Homo sapiens: one gene and its partner. The protein of the gene in region 2 purifies or fractionates together with the protein of the main gene of each other region. This does not show direct contact. Each region holds a gene or a part of one and is shown on either strand. Other genes may lie near its edges.

What was found.
Region 1: the proteins of MYLK3 (region 2) and PCDHB5 purify together in Homo sapiens (affinity purification with mass spectrometry; one large-scale study listed by BioGRID and IntAct). This does not show direct contact.

What each region holds. Positions count from the first base shown.
Region 1 is NC_000005.10:141,133,826-141,138,079, reverse strand, and holds the start of PCDHB5 (protocadherin beta-5 precursor), read right to left. Parts: upstream 2,875-4,254; 5' UTR 2,646-2,874; coding exon 258-2,645; 3' UTR 1-257. UniProt on the Homo sapiens protein: Potential calcium-dependent cell-adhesion protein. May be involved in the establishment and maintenance of specific neuronal connections in the brain.
Region 2 is NC_000016.10:46,724,117-46,727,939, forward strand, and holds part of MYLK3 (myosin light chain kinase 3), read right to left. Parts: intron 3,262-3,823; coding exon 3,120-3,261; intron 1-3,119. UniProt on the Homo sapiens protein: Kinase that phosphorylates MYL2 in vitro. Promotes sarcomere formation in cardiomyocytes and increases cardiomyocyte contractility.

The DNA of each region.
Region 1 (4,254 bases), on a different chromosome or scaffold from region 2:
ATACCAACAAGAAGAGAAAAAAATCTCAGGAAAATCAACAGCATGCATGGATTTGGAATGACACTATGTAAATAAATGCAATGAAATAAAATTGACTTTTCAACACTTGGACAGCATGAAGTTCAACAGACAAATCCATTAAAAAGGGAAATAAAAGCTCAATCTCAAGGTGAAATTTTTGTCCATGACACTCTCGAATTCTAGATCTGAAAAAGTTTGGGATAAATGGCAGAAAACAACGCGTCATCACGAGATCTCTAATTTAATCCAAAGCTATTCCGGAAGGCAGCAGTTTTCCCTATTTCTTCACCAGCGCCCTGGGGCAAAAGGTTAGGAATAATCGGCTTCAGGAACTTGAACTCGCCGGCCCCTGAGTCTCCGGTCAAACACACCTCGTAGTGGTAGCTCTGGGATAGGGTCCCGGTGCCGCTCACGTCCACCAGATGCCCTGGAAAGGGGCCCTCGGGCACCGAGCAGCGACCGACCGGGGCCGCCCTGCTCCTCCTGCACAGCCGCACTGCCACGAACAGGAGCACCGAAAAGAGGAAGAGCGACGACACCGAGGCCAATGCCACCACCAGGTAGACAGTGAGCGAGTCGGCCTGGGCCTGGGCCGGGGCCGCCTCCGGCAGCGGCAGGTAGGGCTGGGAGAAGCCGTCCACCAGGAGCACGTGCAGCGTGGCGGTGGCCGAGCGCGGAGGCTCGCCATTGTCCTTGACCAGCACCACCAGCCTGTGCTTGGCCGCGTCGCGCTCGCTCAGCAGCCTGGCGGTGCGCACCTCGCCATTGTGCGCCCACATGCTGAACAGCCCGGGCTCCGTGGCCTTGAGCAGCTGGTACGACAGCCAGGCGTTCTGGCCCGAGTCACCGTCCACCGCCACCACCTTGGTCACCAGGTAGCCCGGCTCGGCCGCCCGGGGCACCAGCTCGGTGCAAGGCGCCGAGCCGTTCTGCAGCGGATACAGCACGAAGGGCGAGTTGTCGTTGGCGTCCAGCACCAGCACGCGCACCAGCGCCTCGCTGCTCAGCGCCGGGGAGCCGCGGTCTGTGGCTCCCACGCGGAACTCGAACGCCTGCAGGGCCTCGTAGTCCAGCGACCTGAGGGCAAACAGGTGGCCGTTGTCCGCGTTGATGGAGACCAGGGAGGCGAGGCGCAGGTGTGGGTTCTGGGGCGGCAGCAGCGAGTAGGTGACCTGGGCGTTGGTGCCTGAGTCTCTGTCTGTGGCGCTGACACTGCCGATGTGCAGGGCGGGGCTGTTGTTCTCTCGGACGAACAGGGTGTAGGAGGTTTGGGTGAAGGCGGGGGCGTTGTCATTGACGTCGGAGACCAGGACCGTTATGTTGTGCTCGGTTTTCAGCCTGGGTGTCCCCATGTCGGTGACAGTGATGGTGATGTTGTACTCGGCTTGGCTCTCTCTGTCCAGTGTTCTCTGTGTCACTAGGGTGTAAAAGTTTTTTAATGTGGGCTTCAAAAGAAAGGGGAGATCATTCTGGATGGAGCAAATCATCCTACCGTTGTCCCCGGAGTCTGGATCAGAAACACTGAAAACGGCAACTACAGTTTCCGGGGCATTTTCTGGGGTAGGGCTGGAGAGCGTAGACATGGTGAGTTCAGGGGCGTTGTCATTCACATCCACCACTTCTATAGCCACAGTGCATTTTCCTGAAAGGCCCCCACCATCTGTGGCTACAATTTCCACGTTATAATATGGAGTTGCCTCGAAATCCAATGCCCTTTTCAGGCGAATTTCTGCTGTTTTCTCGTCTATTACAAATGGTTGAGTAACTTCATCGCCTTGGAATAGAGCATAGGCTACACTCCCATATGCTCCTGCATCTAAATCTCGAGCGGAGACAACGACAACTAAGGAGTTAAGGGGGCTGTTCTCGGGCACCTGTACCTCATAGAATGATTGTAAAAATTCGGGGGCGTTGTCATTATTATCCAAGACGACAATGCGAATTGTGGTGGTCCCGGACCTGGGCGGAGCCCCACCGTCCAGTGCAGTGAGTGTTAAGCTGAGCTCAGGCCGCTCCTCCCGGTCCAGCGCTTTGTCCAGCACCAGCTCTGGGTATTTTCTGCCATCTCCGCGATTATGCGTAGCAACATGAAAGTGTGAATTTGGGCTGATTGTGTAGTTCTGAACAGTGTTGCTACCTATGTCAAAGTCCTGGGCTATTTTTAAGGGAAACACAGTCCCTGGCTGGGTGCTCTCTGGGATTTTTAGGAGCATTTCCTTCTCTGGGAACTCTGGGGCATGGTCATTTATATCTGTGAGCTGCAGATCAGTTTGAAAAAACTGCACTGGATTTTCTAGTAAGAGCTGGAAATGCAATATACAGGGTTCTGTCGCCCCGCACATCACCTCCCGGTCTAGTTTTTCATATAGAAGCAAATTGCCGGTCTTTATATCAAGCTGCAAGAGCTCTTTGTTTCCTTTGTAATGCATTCGCGCGCCCCGAGTGGCCAGTTCCCCCACCCCAAGACCCAGGTCTTTTGCCAGGTTGGCCACAGAATAGCCACTTTCTGTTTCTTCTGGTATGGAATACCTAACTGCCTCAGAGCCAGCCTCCCACAAAAGCAACAATATAGCAAGAAACATAACTTGCCTTTTCTGTGGCGTTTTTGCTAGCGCAGTCTCCATTGTTCAGACCCGGTCCAGAAGGCGCAGTTTAACTCCGTACACAATCCACCCAGATGATTTGCATAAATAACCGCGAATCCGATCTTTCTTGACTGATTTCCACAAGAACGAAGCCCACCCTGAAGATCTAGCCACTAGATCTTACCTAAAATGCGTCCTTCTTTTAGAGTTTGGATTCCCCAGCTTAATGGCGTCTGAGTTATCCGCAGAGCCCACTATCCACACTCTTAGCCTGCAGCGCCACCAGGCGTCCTAATTTACTATTGCATATAGTATTTGCCATTTCATCCTAAATTCTAACTGACGTGTATCCATACCCTTTTGTCACATAAGCTCTCCCGATGGTATCTCCAGCTCTTAGTTGCTGAAAGTTCTAAATAAATGTTGTGGAGTTAATTTTCAGTGAGAAAATACTTTTGAGAAAAAAACTAAAATTATATATTAATCTCCATAAAAGTACCCTTGAGTACACAAATACACTTTGTTTGGTGTTTCTTATTTGATTATATTAAATAAGTGATCAGGAATATCTATAGAAATTTAAAGTTTAAGAAAAATTACTTTCACTTTGAAGTAAACACCAATAACACCCAGAAAATGGCACAAATCATAGGTGTATAACTCAATGAATTTTCGCAAAGTGAACACACTCCTGTAAGTAGAACCTAGATTAAAAATACTACCCAAACCCAAGTCCCCACCTGCTATTGTCTGGTTACCACCCTCTCCCCAAAAGATAAGCACTGTCCTGACTTCTGTTGTCATAGGTTTTTTTTGCTTTTTTTTTTTTTAACTTTATACAAATGGAGTTATAGATTGTTACTCTCGTGTGTCTGGCTTCTTCTCCTCAATATTATGTTCAGCAAATTGATCTGTGGCATCTTGTTCTTATTTGTTTTATTCTCATTGCTTTATATCATTCTGTTGTATGAATATACTATGATTTATTTATTCATTCTCCAGTTGATGAACATTGTTTTCCAGGTTTAAGCTCTTTGGGGTAGTACTGGTATAAACATCCTTGTACTAGTCTTTTGGTGACCACATATATGTGTTTATGTTGAATATATTCAAAGGAGTTGGATTGCTATGCATTAAGATGTGCACATATATTTTGCTTTAGCAGATAATGAGAAAGTTTTCTCAAGTAGTCGTACTAATACCAGCAAAGTATGAGAGTTCCAGTTGCTCCACATTCTTGTCAACATTTGATGCTATCTTTTCCATTTTAAACCACTCTGGTTAGTGTATGGTGATATGATATTGTAATTTTAGTTAGCATTTTCCCTGATGATTAAACAATTTGAGCACATTTTCATGTTTATCAGCCATTAGGATACAATCTTGTGAAGGGCTTATGCAAACCTTTTTACTTTTTTGGGGGGAGGCATTTGCCTGTTTGCTTATTGATCTGCAGAAGTTTCTCATATATTCTGGGCATAAGTCCTTTTTAAGATATATGTATTGCAAATATCTTTTCCCACTCTATGGTTTTTATTTCAAGTCTATTATGTGTCTTTGATGAATAAAATTTCTTACCTTTAGTCAGATTTGTCAATAAGTTTCATGTATGATTAGCATTTTTTTGTGTTCTATTTAAATGTTCACA
Region 2 (3,823 bases):
TATTCAAATCCTTTGACCATTTTTAAATTGGGTTATTTCTTTCTATTGTTGAGTTATAAGAGTTTGTTATATGTTGTAGATACAAATCCTTTATCTGATATATGATTTGGAAATATTTTCTCCCATTCTGTGAGCTATTATTTTACTTTTCTCATGGTATCCTTTGAAGTATGAGATTTTTTTCATTTTGATGAAGTCTAATTTATCTTTTTTTAATTATATTTTTAGTGTCATATCTAAGAAACCATTGCCTAATCCAAGGTCATAAGGATTTATTACTATGTTTTCTTCTAACAATTTTATAGTTTTAGCTCTTACATTTACGTCTACAATCCATTTTGAATTAATTTTTGTATATGGTGTGAGGTAAGGGTCCAACTTCGTTCTTTCACATGTAGCTCCCTAGCATGGGGTCCCAGCACAATTGTTGAAAAGACTATAATTTTCTACTGAATTGTCATAGCACCATTGTCACAAATCAATTGACCATAAATGTAATGGTTTATGTCTAGACTCTCAAGTGTATTAATTTGATGCACATATCTAACCTTACATTAGTAATACGTTGTTTTGGTTTCTGTAGCATTGTAGAAAGTTTCAAAATTGGGAAAAGTTAGTCCTCCAAATTCGTTCTTTTTCAAGATTGTTTTTGTTATTCTAGGTCCCTTGAATTCCCATCTGAATTTTAGGATTTCATTAATATCTGGAAAGAAGCCAGCTATGACTTTGATAAGGATTATGTTGAATCTATAGATCAATGGGGGAGTATTGTCACCTTAACAATATTAAATTTTCCAATCCATGACCATGGCATGCCTTTCCATTTATTTAGGTCTTTGAATTATCTTAACATTTTGTTGTAGTTTTCAGAGAATGTCTTGCACTTATTTTGTTAATTTTTTTCTAAGTATATTTCTAAGTGTATTTTTTCTTTTGATATTGTCATAAATGAAATTATTTTCTTGATTTTATTTACAGATTGTTCAGTCCCAGTATTTAGAAATACAATTGATTTTTGTATATTTGTCTTGTATACTGCAACCTTGATGAATTTATTAATCCTAATAGTCTCCTCTCTTTAAGAGTTTTTATATACAAGAGCGTGTCATTTGCAAATAGAGACAGTTTTACTTCCTTCCCAATCTGAATGCCTTTTATTTTCTTGCCTAATTGCCCTAGTGATAGCCTCCAGTAAAATGTTTAATACAAGTTGCAAGAACAGATATCCTTGTCTTATTCCTGATTTTAAGGAGAAAACATTCAGTCTCCTACTACAAACTATAGTGTCAGCTGTGGGTTTTTCACAAATGGCCGTTATCAGGTTGAGGAAGTTCTGTTCCTCATTTGTTTATTATTTTCATCATGAAAAGTTTTTGGATTTTGTCAATTATTTTTTCTCATCTATTAAAATGATTACATGATTTCATCCTTTATTCTATTAATATGGCCCATTACGTTGGTTGATTTTCATATGTTAAACCAACCTTGCATTCTTGGGATAAATTCCACTTTGTCATGAATATAATCCTTTTTATATGTTTTATTCAGTTTGCTAATACTTTATTGAGAATTTTTGCATCTATATCCATAAGGGATTTTGGTCTGTAGCCCTCTTTCCTTGTGATGTCTTTGATTTTGGTATCAGGATAAGATTAGCCTCATAAAATGAGAAGCAAGTGTTCTCTCCTCTTCTATTTTTGGAAGAATTTGTAAAGGTGTTAATTCTTCTTCAAACATTTGGTTTTTATTGCATTTGCTTTTGGGTTCTTGCTCATGAAATCCTTGCCTAAGCCAATGTCTAGAAGGATTTTTTCCAATGTTATCTTCTACAATTTTTAGTTTCAGGCCTTAGATTTAAGTCCTTGATCCATCTTGAGTTGATTTTTGTATAAGGTGAGAGATGAGGATCCAGTTTCATTCTCTTACATGTGGCTTGCCAATTATCCCAGCACCATTTGTTGAATAGGGTGTCATTTCTTCACTTGTTTTTGTTTGCTTTGTCAGTCAGTTGGCTGTAAGTATTAGGGTTTATTTCTGGGTTCTCGATTATGTTCCATTGGTCTATGTGCCTATTTTTATGCCAGTACCATATACCACTCAGCGCCTATTATTATGCCAGTACCATATACTACTCAGCCATAAAAAGGAATGAATTAATGGCATTTGCAGCCATCTGGGCTAGGTGTGGTGGCTCATGCCTGTAATCCCAGCACTTTGGGAGGCTGAGGCAGGATTGCTTGAGTCCAGGAGTTCAAGACCAGCCTGGGCAACATGGTGAAACCTTGTCTCTATACAAAATACAAAAATTAGCCAAGTGTGGTGGCACGTGCCTGTAGTCCTAGCTACTTGGGAGACTGAGGATCACTTAAGCCTGGGAGGTCCAGGCTGCAGTGAGATATGATGGCACCACTGCACTCCAGCCTGGGCAACAGAGAGAGGCCCTGTCTCCAAAAAAGAAAGAGAGGAGAGAGGAGAGAAGAGAGAGAGAGAGAGAAAAGAGAAAGAGAAAGAAAAAGAAAGTGAGAGAAAGAAAGAAAGAAGAAAGAAAAAGAAAGAAAGAGAAAGAAAGAAAGAAAGAAAGAAAGAAAGAAAGAAAGAAAGAAAGAAAGAAAGAAAGAAAAGAAAGAGAGAGAGAAAGAAAGAAAAGAAAGAGAGAGAGGGGGAGGGAGGGAGGGAAGAATGCATCGTAGGATCTCCTTTTGTGTGTCTGTGAGTCATGCCAGCTTGCTCACAGAGAAGTCCCTTCCGCACGGAGGGCTGGCGGGAGGAACTTTCACTGTGTATTTTACACACTACTCTGTTGTCTATAGTTGTTACCAAAAGCCTATGTTCCCTTTTGAACTTTTAAAAAAAGTAATCTTAAAGATATTTTTAAAGAAGAAAAGCTCATTGTTTCACTTAATCTTCAAATAATACTTAAAGAGGTACCATTATCCAGATGGAAGAACTACAGCCCCAAGAGGCAGCAAGAGTGGCCTGTCCCAGACTCCAGAACTACAAAATGACAGAGAGCCAGGAATGGAAGCTGGGACTGTCTGTGGATAGAGCTCTCAATGGTGAGAGCACGCCAGGAGCTAGGACACCAGGGGCCCCTACCGCATGCCCAGGGCAGAACCCACCTTGAGGTCCAGGTGCAGGATGTAGTGCTGGTGCAGGTAATGCACACCCTCACAGATCTGCCTGGTGAACAGGACCACATCCAGCTCAGTCAGGTGGTACTTCTCATCTGTGATCCGGTCGAAGAGCTCACCCCCGTCCACGCTGCCAGAGCAAAGGGAGAGGCAGGCACCAGCCTAAGCAAGGCTCTTCAGGGCTTGTCCACTGTCATTATAGGGCCAAAAGAGGCCAGCCCGGGTAGGCCCACCATCACACCCCATGGGTCACAGGGCTGCTGCCACTGCCCTTGGGTTTTTTGTGTGTTTTGTTTTTAGACAGAGTCTCACCCTGTCGCCCAGGCTGGAGTGCAGTGGCGCGATCTCTGCTCACTGCAACCTCCGTCTCCTGGGTTCAAGTGATTCTCCTGCCTCAGCTTTCCAAGTAGCTGGGATTATAGGTGCTCACCACCACACCCGGCTAATTTTTGTATTTTTAATAGAGACAGGGTTTCACCATGTCGGTCAGCCTTGTCTCGAACTCCTGACCTCATGTGATCCACCCACCTCGGCCTCCCGAAGTGCTGAGATTATAGGCGTGAGCCACCCCGCCGGGCCTGCCATTGGGGTTTTATTGGGACCTTTGCTCCAGTCTGCTCCCAGCAAAGATTAGGCGTGGTAAAAAGGAAGTGACAGGTCAAAGGGAAGAGGGGATGGCCATCAGTGTTGAT